Linked DNA regions of Homo sapiens. The protein of the gene in region 2 interacts with the protein of the main gene of each other region in a biochemical or structural test. Each region holds a gene or a part of one and is shown on either strand. Other genes may lie near its edges. The genes, in order: ST14 and IGFBP7.

Region 1 (11,102 bases), on a different chromosome or scaffold from region 2:
AGCCTGATCTTCTGAACTCCAGCCAGAAGTAACACAGGATTTGGCCCCATAATCTTTTTAAAGGCACTGACACATGATTGATTTTCCAGGGCTCAAATGCTTCTCGACATTCAGGCAGGCTTCCAGGATCCCCCAAGGACCAAGGATGTCCTGCAAACTGCGGCTCTGGGCATCTGATGGAGCACCTGGTGATGCTGCTGCTCCGTGGCACTTGGAATGGCATGACCCACTGCTAAAACGGTGCTCTCCAACCTCACAGGAACGCTTCTTAGAGCACAGGCCACTGGCCCCACCCAGCGGGCCCACCAGTTTCTGTTCAGGAGGTCTGGATGAAGCATGAGACTCTGCACCTATGAGTCCCAGGAGATCTCGATATTCCTGCCCAGGGACCTCCCGAGAGAAACACTGCCACAGACGACACGCCTTGTCCCACTCAGACCTCCCGCAGAGAGTCCCGGAAAGGGTGGGATGACCCTGAAGGCTAGCCATCTGTGTTTTCACCTGCTCCCCGGGTGGGAATCTGACCGGGGGGAGTGAGCAGTCCAGAACACTGTCAAGCCACAATGGAGCTGAGGGTGGTGCAGTGGCACGGGCTGGGCTGGCCTCCCTGAATCCCACTGCATGGATGACCATGTCTACACCCCGGCCAAGCCCCGGCTGCCAGGCTCACGCACACTTAGGAACCAGACCACACACAGGCCTCGTGAAACCTCTCCATTTAACATAGACCATTCCCTCAGCGCCTGCACTGGGCACTTCTGTCCGATGCGATCAGGTGGGAATGACCATGTCAGGGCAGAAAAGGAATGACATTTACAACACGCACAGGAGTCCTTCAGCATCATCCTCATTCTACTTCCCACGCCTTGGTAAGAACAGATGTTCTTTCCCTCCCCAGGGAGGAAAATGCGACAGATTCTCGCACAGGTTCTAGGCAACACTCCCTCCCTCAAAGAGGTAAAACACTCAGGCTAAAATGAAAGAGGCTCTGCAAACCCCACCTCCCCCGAGAAGCCTTGCAGTGTTGCTCCAATCAGACTATATTTCCTCCTTTTTGTTTCCATAACTCATGGCAGGCAAAAAACCATTCATTGAACAAACACATATCAGCATGTTCTAAGACAAGCCTGAGCTGGGGACATAGCGGTGAGCCAAGGCTACCTTCTGCCCTCCTGACACTGGCCATGTCATTTCTCTCCCCAGGTCCTCTTCCCTGCCCCAAGCCCATGTGGCGCATCAGCATACAAGAAGCCCTCAAATGTTCCCCCAAAAGCTCCCTAAGCCTTCCCCAGATTGTTGACATTGTCCCTTCAGGCCACCAAGCAAGAAGAGAGGAAATATTTTAAATTATTAAGTAAAAATCTAGGGAGGCTGGGGGTGGTGGCTCAGCACGAGCCCAACACGGGAAGATGACTTGAGCCCAGGAGTTCGAGACCAGCCTGGGAAACATAGTGAGACCCTGTCTGTACAAAAAAAAAAAAACAACTTAGCCAGGTGTGGTGGTGGGCACCTCTAGTCCCAGCTGCTCAGGAGGCTGAGGCAGGAGGATAGCTTGAGCCCAGGAGACTGAGGCTGCAATGAACTGTGATCATGTCACTGCATTCCAGCCTGGGTGACAGAGCAAGACCCTGACTCAAAAAAAAAAAAAAAAGAAAAAAGAAAAAATCAAGGGGGATGGCACGGGAGGTGTGGGTGCCCTTCAGCCAGGCAGCACCCCTCCTCCAAGGCCTTGGGACCCATCTGCTCAGCCTTCACTAGAGAGACAGCCAGGTCTTCATGCCCAGACTCACATCTGTCCCCGTGAGTGTGTGCGCTCACAGGGCCACCTCCCCACCAAACACGAAGCCACGCTTCCGCCCATCTTCCTCTGACAAAGCTCCTCCCTCTCCTAGGTTGGACCCAGGCCTGGGCACCAGTGCACCCCCCAACATTCGTCTCCCCACCTCGCCAACCCGCATTTCCCTCCTACCAGGGCACCAGGCCCCTGGTCTTGGAAGCTACAGGTCAGAGCAAAACCAGCCCCTTGCTGGCCTAGAGAAGGCAACGGCACTGTGGGCCCCACCCAGCCTGACTCCAGGGTCTGTGCTGAGGGGAATGTACATCCAATTTCTTGCAAATCGAGTAGGAAAAAGGAGGAAGGAGGGCGCAACTCCAGTAGGAAAAGAAACTTACCTAAAAAGAAATAAAATGTTTTACTCATTTACACAAATACACACACTGAAGTCCACCCTGGGAGCTGGTAAAACAATTTCAGTCTCAGACCCGTCTGTTTTCCAGGGTCCTCCGAGCCTGGGCTTCCTCAAGAGCGTGGCCCAAGGGCCCCACAGCCCAGATCCGGCAGCCCCACCACCTTCACTGAGGAGGCCCCGAAGCTCCGTTCCCGCTGCTCCTTAGAGACAGGGGAGGCAGATATGCACAAACGCGCCTCGGCCCAGCTTGGGGCTGGCGGGGGAGGCTGTGTCTTCAAACCTTTGCCCCCAGTTGGGTCAGTAGAACCACCAGTGTCCTCCCCTTCTACCTCCCAGCTCCACTTTGGAGGCTGAGGAAGCGAGAGGTTTTCTAGGCAGATTTGGAGCCCTGGAGATTGAGTTCACAGTGTATGTTCTGGGGGCGCTGGTGCAGTCAGCGGTCCAGTCTCCAGCCTGCAGGCGTGCACACTGGGGTGGACGATGGGTGGCCCCGCAGGTGTACACATTTGGGTGGCCCCGGCCCCTATACCCCAGTGTTCTCTTTGATCCAGTCCCGAAACAGAGGGAGCCTTGTGTACACGCCTGGCTTGTTCCTCTGAGCGCAGCCGTCTCCCCAGCTCACCACACCGGCCTGGAAGATCCGCCCATCCGCCTCCACGCTGGACAGGGGTCCCCCGGAATCACCCTGGGCGGAGACAAGCCCTGCCGTGAGTCCCCAGTCCCGCCTCTCCCGGGGCCCACCTGCCGCCCTCCTGCCCCGGGGGCCACCTGGCAGGAGTCCACGCCGCCGCTGAGGAAGCCCACGCACATCATGCGCGGCGTGATCTGCTGCGGCAGGAGGTTCTCGCAGGTGGTCTGGTTGATGACGCGGATCTCACCCTTTTGCAGGATCAGCGCGCCAGTGCCTGGGGAGAGGGCAGGACGGGGCTGAGAGCCGGGCTGCTTCGAGGGCAGCGTCATTCGAGACGCTCCCCACGGGTCATTGGACTAGAAAACTCTGGAACAGCCCAGATGCCCGGGGCTGACAAACGGGTAATCCGCGTCTACTCAGTGGGCTCTGGCAATAGCAGCCACCTAGAGGAAGCAGGGGCATGCTGAGATCTGCCAGGCGAGTTGAGAGGGAACAGACGCCGTGGCAAGCAGGGGTGAGGGAACAAGAAGCAGAGAGGCGGAGGGAAGGCGCCGCAAATGCCCGCGGGGTTCTGTGAGGGCATTGGAGCTGTAAGTCCTGTTCGTTTTCTTTCCTCTCCAAAGACGACAAATGTTCAGCATATGCTGTACAGTGGATTCTTTCAATCTAGCATTTGCCAACTAACGGCCTGCTTCCCTTCATACCCACCCCCTCACGTGCCTTAAGCACCACTGGGCTTAAGGTGTTGCTATCTTCATTACGCGCATGCACAAACAGGATCAGAGCTTAAGCAACTCGCTCAAGGTCACTCAGCTAGTTAGGGGCAAAGCCAACCTTCAATCCTGAGCCCAGGCTGCAAATCCCATGCCCCTTTTACTAAAGGCCTCCATTCCGCCCTGGACAGCCTCATTCTGCCAGGCAGAGGGAGACTGGAGCAGCCCCCCGCCCCGAGACCGGACACGCAGAGGAAACACGGCCTTGGAGAAAGGCCCCAGGCCCTCTGCGGAGCCCTAGGTCAGCCCGAAGCTTACCTCCATACTGGGTGTGTCCCCAGCCCGTGACCCAGATGGCCTTGCCGGCAGGGAAGACATGGGAGGCGTCCGGCAGGCAGATGGGCCGCACCATGGAGCTGTACTCTGCCGGTTTCTCCAGCTCCAGCAGCGCGATGTCATAGTCGAAGGTGAAGTCATTGAAGAAGGGGTGGGAGATGATGCGCTTGAGCCTGCGCTCCTGCACCCCAGGGGCGCTGCGCTGGCTCTGGTCGTGCAAGCCCAGGAAGGCCGTCCACTGCGTGGGGTCTGAGTACCTGGTAGGGAGAGCCGCTATGAGACTGCGCGGTCACTCGGGTCTGTGCACACGGCCTCGCGGCCCCGCGCGTTCCCAGAGGATTCCGCATGGATGAGGCACAGCTGCTGCTACGAGAAGACGATGGGGCCGGCTCTTACTTGGTCTTGACCCTAAGCTAGAAACTACTAAGTGCCTCCAGCTGCAGTATGAAATCCCTCTTGAACTCTTTACCCCCCCTTCCTTGAATACATTTTTAATCTGATGACCAAAAATTAGTTATCTTACGAACCTGATCTTTCACAGGAGGAATAACAGAACAATCAATCCAAATAATTTATTTATTTATTTATTTATTGAGACTGAGTCTCGCTCTGTCACCCAGACTGGAGTGCGGTGGTGGCATGATCTCGGCTCACTGCAATCTCCACCTCCCGAGTTCAAGCGATTATCCTGCCTCAGCCTCTTGAGTAGCTGGGATTACAAGTGCACACCACCACACCCAGCTAATTTTTGTATTTTTAATAGAGACGGGATTTCATCATGGTGGTCAGGCTGGTCTCGATCTCCTGACCTTGTGATCCGCCCGCCTCGGCCTCCCAAAGCGCTGGGATTACAGGCGTGAGCCACCACGCCCAGCCCAAATAAATTTTTAATGTAGTGCTATATAACCTAAGACCAAAATGAATTGAAAAATATGTTGTGTTGTGTCTAAGTTTGTTGCTGGCTATGGAATAGGTTTAGCAATTCAGAAGCTTTTCCACGTGCACTGCAGAGCCGGAGCCCACCCCACTGGGGGGAAAGGGAGGCACAGATGTGGAATGAGATCAGAGATATCAGGAAAGGTTCATGGTTTTTATTTTATTTTATTATTATTTTTTGAGACGAAGTCTCACTCTGTCACCCAGGCTGGAGTACAGAGGTGTGATCTCAGTTCACTGTAACCTGCACCTACCAGGTTCAAGCGATTCTCCTGCCTCAGCCTCCCGAGTAGCTGGGACTACAGGCATGTGCAGCCACGCCTGGCTAATTTTTGTATTTTTAGTGGAAACGGGGTTTCGCCATGTTAGCCAAGCTGGTCTCAAACTCCTGACCTCAAACGACCAGCCCACCTTGGCCTCCCAAAGTGCTGGAATTACAGGCATAAGCCACCGTGCCCGCTGGCTCACAATTCTTAAAAACTGGCCTAAAACCAATACTGTCTCCAGCAGCACCCAGAACTTAGTGTCTAAATATCCTTCTCTATTGAAAGGAACCAGGGCTCCTTGGAAAAACAGCTGATTTCGGATCTGGGGCTTAATGGGAAGCATAAAGCAACCTGGAACATTTTGTTTCTGCAGGAAGCGATCGAGCACTCAAACAGCAATGCGGCCTCACAAAGCTGGCTAAAGTTAGGACAATAAGAACCCCGAAATAAGTGGTGACAGGGTGACACTACTACACAGGTGGAATAATAAAAAAGGGTGGGGTAATCCATCAGTCCACCCTGAGTCTAAAAAGTAATTTCAAAAGAATTTATACAGGGAAAAGGAAAGCTATTCTTTACAGAGAAAAAGCAGCCCCTGGCCGGGCATGGTGGCTCACTCCTGTAATCCAAGCACTTTGGGAGGCCGAGGTGGGTGGATCGCCTGAGGTTAGGAGTTCAAGACCAGCCTGGCCAGCATGGTGAAACCCCGCCTCTACCAAAAACACAAAAATTAGCCAGGTGTGGTGGCCGGTGCCTGTAATCCCAGCTACTCAGGAGGCTGAGGCAGGAGAATTGCTTGAACCCAGGAGGCAGAGGTTGCAGTGAGCCAAGATCGCACCACTGAACTCCAGCCTGGGCAACACAGTGAGACCCCACCTCAAAAAAGAAAAAAAAAAAGAAAAGAAAAGAGAAAGAGAAAGAAAGAAAGAGTGAGCAGCCCCTAAATGCTGAAGAAACGGTACAATAAGGAACCACATTCGCGCCTGCCACAATAATAATCAACAATGTGAGAATCACCAACGGACGCTGAGACGCCGGGCAAAGTACGGCTGGAGAACGAGACACTCACGCTGATTCAAAGAATCACCTGCAGTGTAGTCACGACCAAGGGGGAAGCCCCTTTATGATGGCGAAACCTGTTGGGCGTCCCGAGCCAGGTGCTCAGCCTCCTCTCCCGACCAGCCCCCTTCACGGGGGATCCTGCTCTCCCCGAGTAGGGTACAGCACCGCCCGCGCACTGCTTCCTAACTCAGCCATGAAAACACAGTCGGGAAAACCCAAATTGAGAGGCATCCTGTAAGATAACTGGCCCGAACTTTTCAAAAATGTCAATGCCATAAAAAACCAAAAAATAAAAGGCGTAGAGAAACTGTTCTTGATTAAAATGAGGTTAAAGAAACCTAATGACTAAATACAAGGCGTGACCCTTGACTGCATCCTAGGACTTTTTTTAAAAAGCTCCGAAGAAGGCTGGGCATGGTGGCTCACGCCTGTAATCCTAGCACTTTGGGAGCCCCAGGCGAGAGGATCACAAGGTTGGGAGTTTGAGACCAGCCTGGCCAACGTGGTGAAACCCCGTCTCTACTAAAAATACAAAAATTAGCCAGGCGTGGTGGCAGGTGCCTGTAATTCCAGCTACTCAGGAGACTGAGGCAAGAGAATCACCTGAACCTGGGAGGTGGAGGTTGCAGTGAGCTTAGATTGTGCCACTGCACTCCAGACTGGGCGAAAGAGTGCGTCTCAAAAAAAAAAACAAAAAAAAAAACGTCTAAAGAAGAACATGATGGGCATGATTGGAGGACATTTATGACGCGTACGTCAGCTCGCAGCACAAAGCAATGCCGCCATTTCTCAGTGTGGGACAGCATCCGTGTTTTTGGAGACACAGGCCGAGGCACCTGGTGGGAAGCCTCACAATGGCTGCCCCCAGTTGGGAAATGGTTCTGAAAAATACATGCGGGTGCAAACAGAGAGAAAGCAAACGTGATTAACTCAATCACTGAATGTAGATCAAAGGTATAAGAGTGTTCACTGTACAGCCAGGTGCGGTGGCTCACACCTGTAATCCCAGCACTTTGGGAGGCCAAGGCATGGGGGGATCACGAGGTCACGAGTTCGAGACCAGGCAGGCCACCATGGTGAAACCCCATCTCCACTAAAAATACAAAAATTTAGCCGGGCAAGGTGGCGCACACCTGTAGTCCCAGCTACTCCGGAGGCTGAGGCAGGAGAATTGCTTGAAGCCGGGAGGCAGAGGTTGCAGTGAGCTGAGATCACGCTGCTGCACTCCAGCCTGGGGACAGAGTGAGACTCTGTCTCAAAAAAAAAAGTGTTCACTGTACTAGTCCTTTTTTTCATTCATTGTATTTACAACATTTTTGTAGGTTTGAAAAATTTCAAAATAAAACATTGGAAAAATACATATTTAAAATAGAAAATGTGCGTGACAAGAGAAAGGCATGAAGACCCGCTTCATTTTCCCTCACCTCTCAGGAAGGTCAAAAGGTTACTGAACCACCCAGCCAGGGCACCTCCCCGACCCCGGAGCACTAAACCCAGCCTCTGCCTCCACATCACTCGCGTGCCCACCCGAGCCCTGGTCCACTCTCACTGCCCCAGCGTCCATCACCTTCTGGCCTTTCTTTTTTCTTGAGATGGAGTCTTACTCTGTTGCCTAGGCTGGAGTGTAGTGGCATGATCTTGGCTCACCACAACCTCCGCCTCCCAGACTCAAGCGATCCTCCCACCTCAGCCGCCCCCAAGTAGCTGGGAGTGCAGGTGCATGCCACCATGCTCAGCTAATTTTTGTATTTTTAGTAGAAATGGGGTTTCACCATGTTGGTCAGGCTGGTCTCGAACTCCTGACCTCAGGTGATCTGCCTGCTTCGGCTTCCCAAAGTGCTGGGATTATAGGCATGAGCCACCGCGCCAGGCCCCCTTCTGGCCTTTCTTACAGCCACCTCCCCACGGAATCGCACGCCAAGGCCAAAGCTCAGTTTTCCAACCTAGGCTATGCCCAATCTCGCTTCACTGTAATCTGTTGCCACCAGAAAATGACTTCCCAAAAGCTGTTTTTGTGAGATCCTTTGCGTCCCATTCCACAGCCTAAAAGAATTCCCAAGAGTTGCCAGGTGAGGTCTTGTGACCCACCCAGGCCTTCTGCGTTCACTGTTAATCGACCTGACCTTTCTAACAGTTTCCCAGCCTGCTCACATCCAGCCACGTACTCAACCCCCATCAACTCATTCACTCAACAATCTCTGGGCATCTGTGATGCGATCTATGACCCAGCCTTCAGGTTCACAGTGTACATGTGGAGAGATATGAAAACCACCAATTACAGCGTGACAAGAAGGGTCCCACAGAGGACTGGGTAGAAAGCTGTGGGAGAGGATGGGCTGGGAGTCCGGAAACGAAGTGAGTTATGAACCAAGCCTCGACATCACGTAGGCCTGGCCACCTATGGCCTGAAGGGGTGGAGAATGCCGCATGTTTAAAGAGAACAAAGGTGGCCGGGCGTGGTGGCTCACACCTTATAATCCCAGCACTTTGGGAGGCCAAGGCAGGCAGATCACCCGTGGTCAGGAGTTCAAGACCAGCCTGGCTAACATGGTGAAACCCCGTTTCTACTAAAAGTACAAAAAATTAGCCGGGCACGGTGGCGCATGCCTGTAATTCCAGCTACTCGGGAGGGTGAGGCAGGAGAATTGCTTGAACCCGGGAGGCGGAGGTTGCAGTGAGCTGAGATCGCGCCATTGCACTCCAGCCTGGGCAACAAAAGTGAAACTCGGTCTCAAAAAAAAAGAAAAAAGAGCAAAGGCACATTTAGGAAACCCTCACACTGAGCATGGGGAAGGCATGAGGACTGCACTGGAGACTGAGACTGCACGGACGGGCAGGGGCCAGATAACGTGGCCGTGTCGGTCGTGAAGGAGTTCCTGCTTTATACTGCAAGCCGTGGCAGGCGCTGAAGCAAGAGATTGGGGTGATCAGATTTGGGGAAGGCCCCTCTGGGCTCGAGTGGTGCAGACCAGAGTCCTGAGAGGGAAGGAAGTAGATGGGGAGGGTGCTGCAGCTGCCCAGGCTACAGTGAGCTAGGACGAGCAAGGTGGTGGCAGTGCAGATAGAAGAGAGTAGAGATGTTTCAGGAACACCCAGGAGGCGAGCATGTAGCTGAAAGGGTCTCATGGGACGGGGGAGAGGGGAGAGCCATCCTTGTCCCTCTAGCTCAATTCCCCGTGACCCCAACACTCAGCATGGACACCCCCATCCAGCTCTTTGCCCTGTGCCTGCGGGTTTCCACCTCCCTCCTCCAAGCCCGCCCTGTTCACCTGGCGACCTCAGCTCAAGACCCCGCTTTCATGAAGCCCTGTCTGCAAACCCAGCCAATCGGTAAGTCTGACAGTATTTGATTCTATCAGCAGACTCAGCCTCTAACGTTTAAGGCATGCACGTCTACCAGCAGCTGAGAGACTGATTGTGAAGATGCAGCCACTGATATCCCCCATGGTGACCCCAGGGGCTGGAGTGCAGTTGGGAATCGCTAGTGCTCAGGTAGAACTTCTGATGTCCCAAGCACAATTCTCGATGCTGACACAGTAAGTTGTTTTATCCCTGAAACAGTCCTGTGAGGTAGGGTCGCGCTTTTTAAGATGAGGACTCAAGCACAGAGAGGGCAACTTGCCGAAGATCATATAGCTAACACGCTGTAGACCACAACTGCAACCTAGGCAGCCTGTGCATTTAACCGCAACGTGATGCCGCCTCCCGGCAGTGCCCAATGAATGCATGATGACTTAGCCATGTGCTCAGGGTCCCTTGACACCATGCCCCTGCACATCTCACACCTCCCTGCCTCTGCACACGACACTCCCTTTGTCTGGAAGGTCTGAGCCACCTGGTCCAGCTGACAGACACCCTCACCTTCAACCCTCAGTTCAGACACCCATGTTGAGTGTTCCCAACAGTCACCCCCCGAGTCCCTCAGGCATATGGGTTTAGAATTCTAAACTCCACATGCTGGGCCCAAGGGAGCCTGGACACAGCCCTGCCACAGCACTTACTGCACATGTGTGTCATGTCTTGTCCCTACCCTTACAAGTCTGTGACCCACAATCTGCAGGGACCAAGTCCTATTCATGTTGGTCTCTCTAGTGTCAATAGTAACCAGGGGTGTTGAAGATTAATTGCACTACTCGTTGGCAGAAGCATGACTGATGATCAACACACGATGAAGGAGAAGGAAATGAGAAAGAAAGCAACGAAGCAAAGGAAAAGAGGAAGCAGTGCAGGATGGCAGGGCAGTTCTTAGTATGCACCCAGCCATTTCCTAGCTCTACCTGCTAACTGGGCCTGGACATGACACCATGGTGACAATGAACACACTAAGCAACCGGACCTTGGTCTCTAAATACCATTCCCAGTAAAGGACTCCTTGGAGAAATGGCTGGTCCTAGGGCTGGGCTGGGGAAACATAAGATGAGCCTATTGTACCTGGTAGTGCCAGAAAGCAAGGACATGGCTCAAAAAAGGAAAGAATGGGGCATATCAAAGAGGCACAAAAGCCAACCTCAAAGAGAAGTGGTTGGGCCAGGCATGGTGGCTCACATCTGTAATGCCAGCACTTTGGGAGGCCAAGATGGGAGGATCACTTCAGCCTAGGAGGTGGAGGCCAAGCTTAGCAACTTAGCAAGGCTCTGTCTCTACAAAAATTTTAAACTAGCTGGGCATGGTGGCATGTGCCTGTAGTCCCAGCTACTCAGGAGGCTGAAGCAGGAGGATTGCTCAAGCCCAGGAGTTCAAGACTGTAGCAAGCTATGATTTGCACCACTGAACTTCAGCCTGGGTGACACAGTGAGACAAGGGACAGCCTCAGGCTGGACAAAGCCACGTGTCAAGCACCCAGCGAAGCTGGGGACCATGGAACTGGGTCCACTCCCCACAGGCTCTTGCTGTCCATCTCCATCACCCAAGCCCTGTGCATGGGTCTGAGCACACTCCATCTGTGCCTCAGGCCTCCCTCCTGCTGTGG
Region 2 (12,021 bases):
CCTCATTTTAAAAGGCAAAATGTTTTATTATATAAACTCTGGAAAATATACAAAAGAATGAAATTCACTTGTAGCTCCTCGATACATATACATTTAGCAGCTGAGTTACAGAGTACAAATATTTTAAGCCTTGTGATAATGGTGAGTTTTAAAAAAAAAAGGATATACGAATTGTTTGTTCATTCCATCCCAGATCTCCTTTAAGAGCCAACCTGACATTTATTGATATTACCTTTGTAATTAGAAAGGATTTACAACCTCAAATAGCTAGTTTCCTTTTCATTTTCTTCTATAATAAAGCAAATCTTAATAAAGACCAGATAATAGTGTGTATATATAGACACCGTATGTATAAATATAATAAATATATAAATAAATATATACACTTTATTAACTTCCATCTCAGTGTTGCTTTTCCCATGTGGATCCCACTCCTACCATGTGTTTTTTGGTACTCTGCTGTTGTGTCGGCTTCAAACCTACACTGTATTTTCTCAGCTTTATGATGCCAGGACTGGGATTCAGCAAACCACATGTGATCTAGGCCAATTCCTGCTCTAGAAAAAATATCTTGCATGATTTGGAAAGCCTGGCTTTTTGCATTTTTTTTCTGGAATTTTCCCACATTGCCACTATTAGTGAGAGAAAACCACGTAACTTAATGTCTTTCTCATAAATGCTGTGAAGACAAACATACTCAATAGGTACCTTTTCCCTTAGTTTCCCAAGTAGCTGGCAGAAACGGTTTATGCTAATACAGCTTTTGAAATAGTTACTTAAAAATGGGTTGTAAGAATATTTTGGTAGAAGTATTAATTTGATCCAAGGTCTCAAGTAATATGACTCTGACCTTTATTTACTGAATTTCAGAATCATATGAGTTTTATGTGTGACCAAAGCAAGAAAATAAACACTGCAGCACTGAAATACTGAATCTCAGCAACTAAGCCTCAAATCCCATAGCTCTTAGTAACAGCATTTTATGCTAATTAACCTGATCCACTATGGAAAGGGAAATGTATCTTGTTAAATATAATATTTAACATAAATCACAATATAGATATACTTTATTTTTCCCTTCTTTTCACAAGTGTTGGCATGGCGTATTTTAATTAATGTTACGTAATTATAAAAGGTTATACATCATGTAGAAAACATAGAAAAAAGTGCCAAGAATTTTCATATGACAAATTTTTATATGTCAAACTCTCCCTTATTCGTGTAAGGGGATTCTAAGTGTTGTTAAGTATGTGTTTTCTTTTTTTTTTGAGACAGAGTCTCGCTCTGTCACCCAGGGTGGAGTGCAGTGGTGCGATCTCAGCTCACTGCAACCTCTGCCTCCGCCTCCGGGATTCCAGTGATTCTCCTGCCTCAGCTTCCCGAGTAGCTGGGATTACAGGCATGTGCCACCACGCCTGGCTAATTTTTATAGTTTTAGTAGAGACGGGGTTTTGCCATATTGGCCAGGGTGGTCTCGAACTCCTGACCTTAAGTGATCCACTTGCCTTGGCCTCCCAAAGTGCTGGGATTACAGGCATGAGCCACTGTGCCTGGCCAATAAATATGTGTTTTCTAGTTAAAATTGGAATTAAAACTAAAAAAGAGAGGTTAATATTCAGTGCTAGTAAAGATGCAGAGAAATGGCACTTCTCCATTTCTGGTGGGAGTGTGAATTACTACAATCTATTTAGAAAGTAATCTGACAATGTCTGTTAACACTGAAACAAATATTTTGACTTAGGTAACTGTTGGGGAATCTATCTTATAGCAATACAATCACTAGTATGTATGATATGTGTACTTTGATGCTTAAAGTAGGTTTTTTAAGTTAACAAAAATTTGGAAACAACAGAAAAAATACAGAACTGATTTAATAAATTACAGTATTCATACTTGGAATATTACGTAGCTGTTGAGAAGCAGACTTGGACGGATGTCCATGAAGTATTTGTTGAGAAAAGCGAGTTTCAGAATAATTTACTGGCACACTATATTCTCATTTCACCGTAGGGATATATGTTTGAATATGCTTGGATATGAAAAAGAGTGTGGAAAGATACAAACCAGGGCAGTTCACATTGGTTACCTCAGGCAGGAGGAGGAGGTGGGGGGAGATTCTCAACTCTTTCTTTATACGTCTTTGGATAATTTCTGCTTATTACTATTACCTTAGAGGTCACTATTTTTGATTAAAAAATATTCTTAGAGGTCAAGGAAGCCCTAATCTGAAGAAATATTCAGGCAAGAAAAGAATTAAACAGAGAGCCTCTCCGTCTCAGAAACAAATATTGGGAAGGTGTTTTGCTTTCGCTGTGAGCATCATCTTTGATTTAAAAGGGTTAAGTCAAATATGGCTATTTCAGTTCACGTTCCCATTTCAAAATATTGCCCTTCGAATCTTTCTAGGCTAGGAGTTTGCTGAAAGGTATGGGGCTTGTTAAAGCCAGCTTTCCTTACTACCAGTAAGGAAAGTAAAGACCACTCGCCAGGCTGTGCCAACCGTAAGAATTGCCACCGTAGTCTCAAGTGTCATGGAGAAAAGGCTTGTACCATTAATTCTGCTGTTGCTAAGAATCCTTGAGCAAGAAGGACATGCTGTCTTTATTTGAGCCTCAGTTTCTCTTGTTTTACAAGTGAGGATTCTAATAATCTATCCAAAAAGGTGTTCTACTCTTAAATTGGATTTGAAACACACATGATAGTAAATATGTTTGTATTCTTAACAGTCTGGTTACAAGGACAGCGATGAGAAAACAAATACCCTGTTTAATTATTTAGGTCAGTGACTTCCCAAGTTTCCTTAGTTTTGACATGGACCAAACTATCGTATATCTGGAATATACAAAAGTTTTAGGAAATGACACCTTCATAAGTGGTAAGTGTGATGCCTTAACATAGGTTCTGTTCTATTTTTTATTTTTTATAAGAACATGGTGGTTGTGATCGCTACATTAGTTCCAGGAGTCACTGATGGGTCATGGTCTGCAGTGTAAGAAACATTGCTTTGGGTCATGCATGTGGCAAATTACATTATGAAGGTAGAGGAAAACCGGCAGAGCATCACAGTTGGGTTTTGCTTGTTCTGGAAAGTCTGCAGAAAAAATTGTTTCTCTCCTACTTCCTCTTCACTTCTTTACTTCAGCACCCATCTCGTTGACTGACATAGTGGGTTTTTTGGTTTTTTTTTTCAGAGACAGGATCTTGCTCTGTTGCCCAGGCTGGAGTGCAGTGGTGCCATCATAGCTCACTGCAGCCCCACCTTTTGAGCTCAAGCGATCCTCCCACCTCAGCCTCCCGAGTGGCTAGGGACTACAGGTGCGAGCCACCACACCAGCCTCAACTGCCTTGGTGTTTCTGACTAGCCCTGAGGACAAGCACTCAGGGAGGCCTTGTCTATTGGGATCTGCCCTGTACAGTCCTAAAAGGGAAAAGATTCCCGAGGCAGACGTATTCCTCTGGTATGTGAATACTGTAGCTGGGATTGGGTAGAGCAAGGACTGAAGAAATTATTCTTTGCCAAGATTTGCCAATAAGGTCACATGCCCCAGGACGCTTGGGTGACCCTCGCTTCTCATTGTGTAAGTATCCCTAGAAAACTGTAGAGAACTGCAACGGAGCTTTTCATGGGTATTCCTCGGAACATTATTTCTCCACCTCCCCACACCCTGAGCAAACCAGCAATCTCCAAATTAGCAGTGAGGAACGCCTGCAGTTCTTGCAGTAAGGATGGAGGGGAACCCATCCACGGACTGCATTTCTGCTCTTACTCTTGCTCCGCCTTCCTCTTAAAAACATAACTGATCGGGGTGAAATTTTATTGCTCCTTTAAGAGAAGCTTCACTGTAAAGGATGGTATAGTAGTGTTGCCTCTGCCATCACCCCCACCTCAGGCATTTTCTGGTACCTGTTCCCAGATTTTACACAAACCAGGCGGATTCACGCCGGTGCCAATGTCAGTGGCCGCATCCCTCCGGCCGCATGGGGGAGCCAGAGCTTAGCAGGTGACCCGACCTGGGCTTGAGCCCTTCGTGGGATTTTCACAATGCAGCAGGGAGAAGGGAAGCCCTTTCTTTCCTCTGGGGTCTTTAAGCTGTAATAAAAATGTGAGTGGAGTTGATATCTCCCACTGCATAGGAAGCTTTCTGAAGCAGAAGAAAATGAGACTAGTATATTGAGAGCAAAGAGTCAAGAGTTAGAGTTCTGATGGCGTGTGTACCTGGATGCAGGGGCCCTTGAGGCTGGATCCCGCCCCGCTTTTTGTTTTGCCTAGGCTGGTTTCAAATGGGCTGGTAGAACTTGCAACAGAAAGAGCTCCGACTGCGGGAGCCACAGTCCTCCTGGAGTTCTAGAAGTTGCTTCTCCGGTCACACAGAGAGCAAACAAAATAGTCAAGGGAGACTATCATCCACCTTAGAGCTTGCTGGAGAAGTAAGGCAGCTTAAAATGGATGTCTGGTTATGCCCTTTTACTTAAACTAAGTTCCTTTTTTGGTAGCATGAGTTTGATAATTTTTTAATTTTTATTTTTCGTAGGATAGTTGTGAGGCTCAGCAATTCAAAATGTATAAAAAGGACAAAAACGACCAGGCGCGGTGGCTCACACCTGTAATCCTAGCACTTTGGGAGGGCAAGGTGGGCGTATCACCTGAGGTCGGGAGTTCGAGACCAGCCTGACCAACATGGAGAAACCCTGTCTCTACTGAAAATACAAAGTTAGCCAGGCGTGGTGGCGGGTGCCTGTAATCCCAACTACTTGAGAGACTGAGGCAGAAGAATCACTTGAACCCGGGAGGCGAGGTTGCGGTGAGCCGAGATGGTGCCATTGCACTCCAGCCTGGGCAATAAGAGTGAAACTATGTCTCAAAAAAAAAAAAAAAAAAAAAAAGACAAAAACGTAAGTGTATGGTATAATTGTGAGGTGTTAGTTGATGGCAAATAAGTGTTTTCTTTTCCCTTCTCCATACATGCTGAGATGATGTTGTCCTTCAAATATGAAGATAATTATACAAGATAATGCCACTTGAAGGGAAAAATTTCCAGGAACAGTAGCTAATGTCTACTGAGTGCTAACTATGTATCAAGTAATTTTTACTTGCATTACTTTATTTCATCTTTATGATAATTACATGCTACTTTTATAAGGTAGAGAACAGAGTTGAGGCTAACAGCAGTGGTTTTCAGTCCAGGGCAATTCCCCAGCTCCACACCCTTAGGGGACATTTGGCAATGTCTGAAGATGCTTTTAATTCTCACGACAGGGGGGATGGGGGAATGCTACTGTTATATAGTGGGTAGAGGCTGGGGATACTGCTAAACATCTTCCAAAGCACAGGCAGCCCGCACAACAAATAATTATCTGGCCCCAAATGTCAATAGTGCTGAGGCTGAGAAACCCTGACTTGCAGAGAACTCAGCCACCCTGGCTAAGGAATTCACACTCTTTTTTTTTTTTTTTTTTTTGAGACAGGCTAGAGTGCAGTGGGGCAATCACAGCTCACTGCAGCCTCAATCTCCTGGCTCAAGGGGTTCTTCCACCTTAGTCTCCTGAGTAGCTGGGGCCACAGGCATGCCTCACCATGCCCAGCTAATTAAAAAAATTATTTGTAAGAAGGAAGTCTCACTGTGTTGGTCAGGCTGGTCTCAAACTCCAGGACTCAAGTGATCCTCCTGCCTCAGCCTCCCAAAGTGCTGGGATTACAGGCATGTGCTACTGCACCCAGCCTCACACTTTTTTTTTTCTTTTTTTCCATTTGGGAAGTCATTTCAAAGCTGATTTATTAAAAGAATATCATGCTTTTTCCACTTGGGGCTGGGGCCAGCATTTAGCAAAATTCAGAAAGGAGACATTTTTTTCTTTGCTATTCCTCCTCTTGTTCCTTTTTAATGCTCTGTTCTGGAGTGGTCTCCTCTGTCCCTAACTTATGGTTCTACAGCCTTGGTACTTAGGAGAATAGATCCCACCTCATTCCTTCTATCCTACTTCCAAGTGCCCTTAAAATGTACTCATCCATCTCCCAGCACTTAGGGAATCTGAAAAAATAATCCATGCTCCCAGGAGAAGGCTACAGGGCTTTGTGTCCTTTTACCTTCTTAGCCGAGCCTCCCAGTAAAATAATAATAATGCCTCCAAGCAGACAGGATCTAAATTATCAGCTAAATGTTCAGTCTTAAATGAGGAGACTGATGCCATCACAAACAGCTTGGTGGGGGCTTGGAGGTGGTATTTTGGGACAGAAAGAGAGAAACGTACGCTTTTAACCCCTATGCTATACTGTCTCCACTGAGGGCGCAAACACAGACACACACACTTTCACTCGCACCCACATATGCACACACATACACACACCACAGGTGCACACACACCCTGAAGGTGGGTTCAGGTGTTCAGCATTATTGTTCTTCCAGTTTCTCAGATTCTAGGATGCTGCTAACAAAAGCATGGCAGGGACTGGTTTTTGTTCCATGAATCCAGGGGAGGGGCCTGTATGACTGCCCTAAGGCTTCACCTTGCGGGAGCCGCAGTCAACAAAGCAGGCTGAGGATTTAACGTTTTACCATCCTTGTGCAGTGCAAGAGAAGCTTGTCAGCCTAGGATGTCTCTTAAAGTCTGTGCCACAGACCTTGTTCCAGATGAGGACAGGTGTCGGGATTCCGATGACCTCACAGCTCAAGTACACCTGGGCACCAGTGACATTCCAGATGTCCTTGGGGGGCGTCACTATGGAAGGACCTGCAGGAGAGGGCACAAAGCCAAAGTCATCTTTTAAACAGTCCTTCACATGAGTCAGCATCTTAGGGAGAAAATAATAATTTTGTTTATGAGGCCATCCCCTTGATGGATTATCTGAAGCAAATTTCAAAGACCACACTGGCTTCCTCCTGCCACCAACATGATTTTAAGGTCCACTTTGGGAATGCATAAATCTAAACAAACAAAAACAATTAGGAAGAAAAATGTGTTATTAAAATTTTCTTCTTCCCCAGACCATGCTTAAATGAGTGCTAATTTACCAGCTGTTTTTTTATTATCTGGGACTTTTCCAGTAGTAATAAAATTTTAGTTCCAAAATGTTCAATGTTTTTCTTCTTTTGTTTACCACTATTTCTATTTTGGGTTGGAAAGGCAACAAGCAACCGCTCCATGGGTAATGAAGAAAAAAAATCTAAGAGAATATTTGAAAATGTGCTAAGCACCCAGACAAGATGGAAGTCTCTGCCTCAAGAAGCTTAGGATCTAAGGTTGAAAAGGGTGATGAGGCAGGGAAGAAAAGAAACATGTGGAGTGCTGTGTGCGTCAGGGGATTGGAAGGGACATCTTTATTTTTAATTTAATTTTATTATTATTTTTTTGATACAGAATCTCATTCTGCCACCCAGGCTGGAGCGCAGTGGCTTGATCATAGCTCACTGCAGCCTCAAACTCCTGGTCTCCAGCGATCCTCCCACCCCAGCCTCCCGAGTAGCTGGGACTATAGGCGTGCACCACCATGTCAGTTAATTTTTATTTTTTATTTTTGTAGAGACGGGGTCTTGCTATGTTGCCCAGGCTGGTCCCGAATTCCTGGCTTCAAGTAATTCTCCTGCCTCAGCCTCCCCAACTGCTGGGATTACAGGTGTGAGCCACCATGCCTGGCCAGGAGGCACCTTTGAACAGAAGAGGCCCGGGTGTCGAGGAAGGTGGTACAGGGGTCCTTCTTCCAGTGTGCTCAGGAGAGGCAGCTGGTAAGAAGGAAGAAGAGTGACTGATCTATTGGGTGTGACCAGGGTCCCCAAGGAGAGGGCCCTTTCCCAGCGTTCTCAGTGTCCAGGTCCCTGGCAGGAGGCATTGGCAAGTGGGGGGCACCCTCAAGCCACGGCCTAAATAGAGTCAGCAGGTATGGGGCCACTGAGAGAGGCCAGAATGATGCTTCTCCATTCCCCCAATTAGGGAACACACCCCCCACCTTCTGTATCATGGCACCCTCTGGAGAAGTTCCCTACTCAGAGTCAACACAAACCATGTGTATCCTTTTTGCTATGAAAGTGGTATGACTCTCTGGTCCTGGGTTAGCTAACTATGGCCTGTGGGCCAAATCTGGCCTGCCATCTGTTTTTGCATGGCTTATGAGCTAAGAATGGTGTTTGGATTTTTGTTTTTTTAAATTAAGAAAAATTTTATTTTTTTGAGACAGAACCTTACTCTGTTGCTCAGGCTGGAGTGCAGTGGCATGATCTTGGCTCACGGCAACCTCCGCCTCCCGGGTTCAAGCTCAAGCAATTCCCATGACTCAGTCTCCCAAGTAGCTAGGACTACAAGTGCATGCCCAGCTAATTTTTGTGTTTTCAGTAGAAACAGCATTTTGCCACGTTGGCCAGGCTGGTCTCGAACCCCTGAGCTCAAGCGATCCCCCCACCTTGGCCTCCCAAAGTGTTGGGATTACAGGCGTGAGCCACTATGCCCGGCCTGCAGTTTCAAATGGTTGAAAAAAAATTAAAAGATGGATATTTCATGACGTGTGAAAATTGTAAAGGAAATGTCCATAAAATAAAGTTCTGTTGGAACACAGCCACACTTATTTGTTTCCTGTGGTCTCTGGCTGCTAGAGCAGTTGTGGCTGAGACTGTATGGCTAAAATAGTCACTGTCACTGGCCTTTTATAAAGAAATTTGCTGATTCCTGCTCTAATCAACTGAGGGAGACTGATGCCTAAATAAGACATTATGGGAAAGTCTCAGGACTTCAATCCTTTACACATTTTCCAGAGCTGATGCAAGTAACCCCCTGGGTGATTTCTGGTTTGGCTCTGAAACACAAAACTGTGGAAGCCAACAGATACCGAGAGAGCGGGTGCTTGCTGACTGCGCCTGTCCCCTGACGGCCTGGCTTCCCGGCATCTGCAATAGAGATGTGAACACCAACTTTTTAGTTACTGGTAATTAGTATGTCACTTCTGCTAATTCTGAATGCCAGGGTTCAATCACCAGGGGCCTTCAGAAAGACTTGGGACCGTCCGCAGAGGAGGGTCATGGAGCTGGCAGTCTGGGATCCTCATGTGGGGCAGTGTGAGACTCCAGAACCTAACCTGGCTCTTATTCCATGCTTAGCATGGTTTCTTGAATGAATAAATTAATGATCCCTTCTGAATTTTAAATCTCTGCTGACTTGGGTCTCCTATCCTAGCAAAGTACAAACTGCAGGGTCATCTTGCATCAGAGTCCTGGGAAAGGGACAACCTCCCCTTTAGGACTGGAAAGTTTTCTGGCATAATCAGCATTCAAAGGACATAAAGTCTCCCCTTCTGCAACAGGCTATTTCCAGCACAATATTAATTTCTTGAAACAGAAAGGAAATGACCCCAGTGTGCAAGATTTTCCCACTCATCTAAAGCATTAGAAGCTGATTTTTTTTAATCTCATGGGATATTTTTATTTTTGTAGGAATGTGCAAAACAATCAAAAGTTTGGAAAGCTCTAAATACATTTCATGCTTCCTTCCCTCCAAACCATAGGTCTGAATAGGAAGCATATATCCTGGCCAGGGGGCTTGGCTCTTCTGCTGCAAACATGAATGTGGTGAGCACAGTGGTGCAGTATTTACGTTTCTGGCTCTGTCTCAGACATTTCCTAGTCTGGATGCAGCAATACAGAACCCTGCAAAGGGCTGGGCCTCACCCTATCCCGGGCTTCCTCTAGGGCTATGGGACCCCAAGGGTTTGGACACCACAGAGCCGGATCTGGCTGGGCTTTGAACTGCCTTCGCCCACCTCTCTGATGGCCCTCATGCTGCTCTGTTCTCCTTCCCACACACAGACTTGGCAGGAGGACTTCAAAGCTCAGGGGATCTCAAAGGATTGTTCTGAGAAGAGCATACCAGTTTTCAGAGATTTGAGGGGGAGCTCGGGAACAAAGCTGCTTCTCTCATATCCAAACCACACAAGGAATGCAAGACAATTTTATTGTGAGGATCTGAGGGCCTCAGCCCTGCCAAAACCTACTTACTTTAACCTGTGTCCATCTCCCTATTGCCAATACAGGTAGCAGGGTCATCGGTCTTGGGCAGGGGGCAGATTCTGGAGTGCTAATGGGCAAGTTCCAGCCTGATTTTCTGCCAGAGATCTTGAAGACATGCTATGGATTTTTCCCATGGGATTTTAAAACAGATGTTCTTAGTTTTAGTATAGTCCAATTTATCAAGTTTTCTTTTCTGTGGTTAGTGCTTTTCGTGTCCTGTTTAAGAAAATTTTTGCCTAGCCCAAGGCTATGAAGATCTCCTGTTTTCTTCTACAAGCTTTATGGTTTTACTTTTCACATTTAAGTTTTTGCTCCATCTTGAATTAATTTTTGTGTGTGCTATGAGGCAGAGGTCAAGTTTCATTTTTCCTCCCCTAAAAGGACATCCAATTGCTTCAGCACCATTTGTTGAAAAGACCATCTTTTTCCTAATGAATCATAATAATGCCTTTGTGGAAATCTGTAAGACCCACTGTATATGTGTGCGTCTATTTCTGGACTCTCTGTTCTTTTCCACTGGTCTATGTGTCTATCTTTGCACCAATAACTATGGCATAATTTAGAAATTAATTGTACTAAAGTTGAAGCACTAAATAGAGGGCAGATCTAATATATCTGTTCCCCCCCAATCATCTTACTATTCCAAGAAGCAGAACACTCTAGGACAAGTAAGAATTCTTTTTTTATTTTTATTTTTGTAGAGACAGAGTCTTGCTATGTTGACTAGGCTGGTCTCAAACTCGTGGGCTCAAGTAATCCTCTTACTTCAGCCTCCCAAAGTACTGGGATTATGGGTGTTAGCAACAGTGCCCAGCCATGAATTCTTTAAAAATACCTGAACCCAGGAATACTTTGAATGACAGCCATCGTCAGGGGATTCAATATTAGGACAAATCATATCATGGGTTCCTATTTCTCTCTCCCAATGCTTGGAATACCTTAGGTAAACAGGCTGAGTCAACATTTGGATTATTCTAAGAATGTAAATGATTTTGTCAATCCTGCCACCAGGCTATTTCTAGAATTCTACAAGACTTCCATACCACAAAAATCTATAATATCCACTGACTCCTGCTGGGGTGATGTAGTGGAAGGGCAGAGGAGGGGCTGTTAGGACCAGTTTGCTGCACAACATTTACAAAAACCTTTGACTATTTCAAATATCCTTGAACAAATGCTGGGTTTACTAACACAATGAAAAGTTTAACAAACAATACGTAAACTGGAAAGTGCTAAGAAATAAGGCTACAGAACGGCCTTTTGGTTTTGAGATGCAGTCTCTTGCAAAGGAAAGTCACATCAATAAATTATTAGTGTAATATTCAAGGGACCAAACAGACCTCTTAGAGTACATGGAGGCGGGTTGGCCTCCACGTGACTTCCTGTGTTGGAAGAATCTGTAGGGATTCAACATTCTTTCCAGTACTTTCTTCAGAGCTGATACCCAGTAGGATACCTATTTACTAAGCTCTGATTGGTTCTTTACCACTTACCTGGTCTGGAAATTCCCCCAGAATATGCAGAGGGAATGGAAAAACTCCTTTTTTTTTTTTTTAGATGGAGTTTTGCACTTGTTGCCCAGGGTGCAATGGTGTGATCTCGGCTCACTGCAACCTCTGCCTCGTGGGTTCAAGCGATCCTCCTGCCTCAGCCTCCCAAGTAGCTGGAATTACAGGTGCTCGCCACCATGCCTGGCTAATTTTTGTATTTTTAGTAGAGATGGGGTTTCACCATGTTGGCCAGGCTGGTCTTGAACCCCTGACCTCAGGTGATCTGCCCACCTCAGTCTCCCAAAGTGCTGGGATTACAGGTGTGAGCCACTGCACGCGACCAAAATCTCTTGATAAAAGCAAATTACAGAAGTTTTAGAGAAAGGTAAATGAAGATACATGGTGAGAAAGAATAAGCAAGCGACTTAATGGTGACCCACAGGGACACCAAGAGGACAAGTCTTGTATAGAAGAGAAGAGATGCTGAAAATGTTTTCGGTGGATACAATGCCAGCCCCAACAATGCTGCACTCTCCTCCCCG

Evidence for each region.
Region 1: of the proteins of IGFBP7 (region 2) and ST14, one has a biochemical effect on the other in vitro, tested with the Homo sapiens proteins (one study listed by IntAct).

What each region holds. Positions count from the first base shown.
Region 1 is NC_000011.10:130,201,434-130,212,535, reverse strand, and holds the end of ST14 (suppressor of tumorigenicity 14 protein), read right to left. Parts: intron 4,127-11,102; coding exon 3,852-4,126; intron 3,095-3,851; coding exon 2,958-3,094; intron 2,875-2,957; coding exon 2,713-2,874; 3' UTR 2,174-2,712; downstream 1-2,173. UniProt on the Homo sapiens protein: Exhibits trypsin-like activity as defined by cleavage of synthetic substrates with Arg or Lys as the P1 site. Involved in the terminal differentiation of keratinocytes through prostasin (PRSS8) activation and filaggrin (FLG) processing.
Region 2 is NC_000004.12:57,034,205-57,046,225, forward strand, and holds part of IGFBP7 (insulin-like growth factor-binding protein 7 isoform 1 precursor), read right to left. Parts: intron 6,730-12,021; coding exon 6,620-6,729; intron 1-6,619. UniProt on the Homo sapiens protein: Binds IGF1 and IGF2 with a relatively low affinity. Stimulates prostacyclin (PGI2) production. Stimulates cell adhesion. Acts as a ligand for CD93 to play a role in angiogenesis.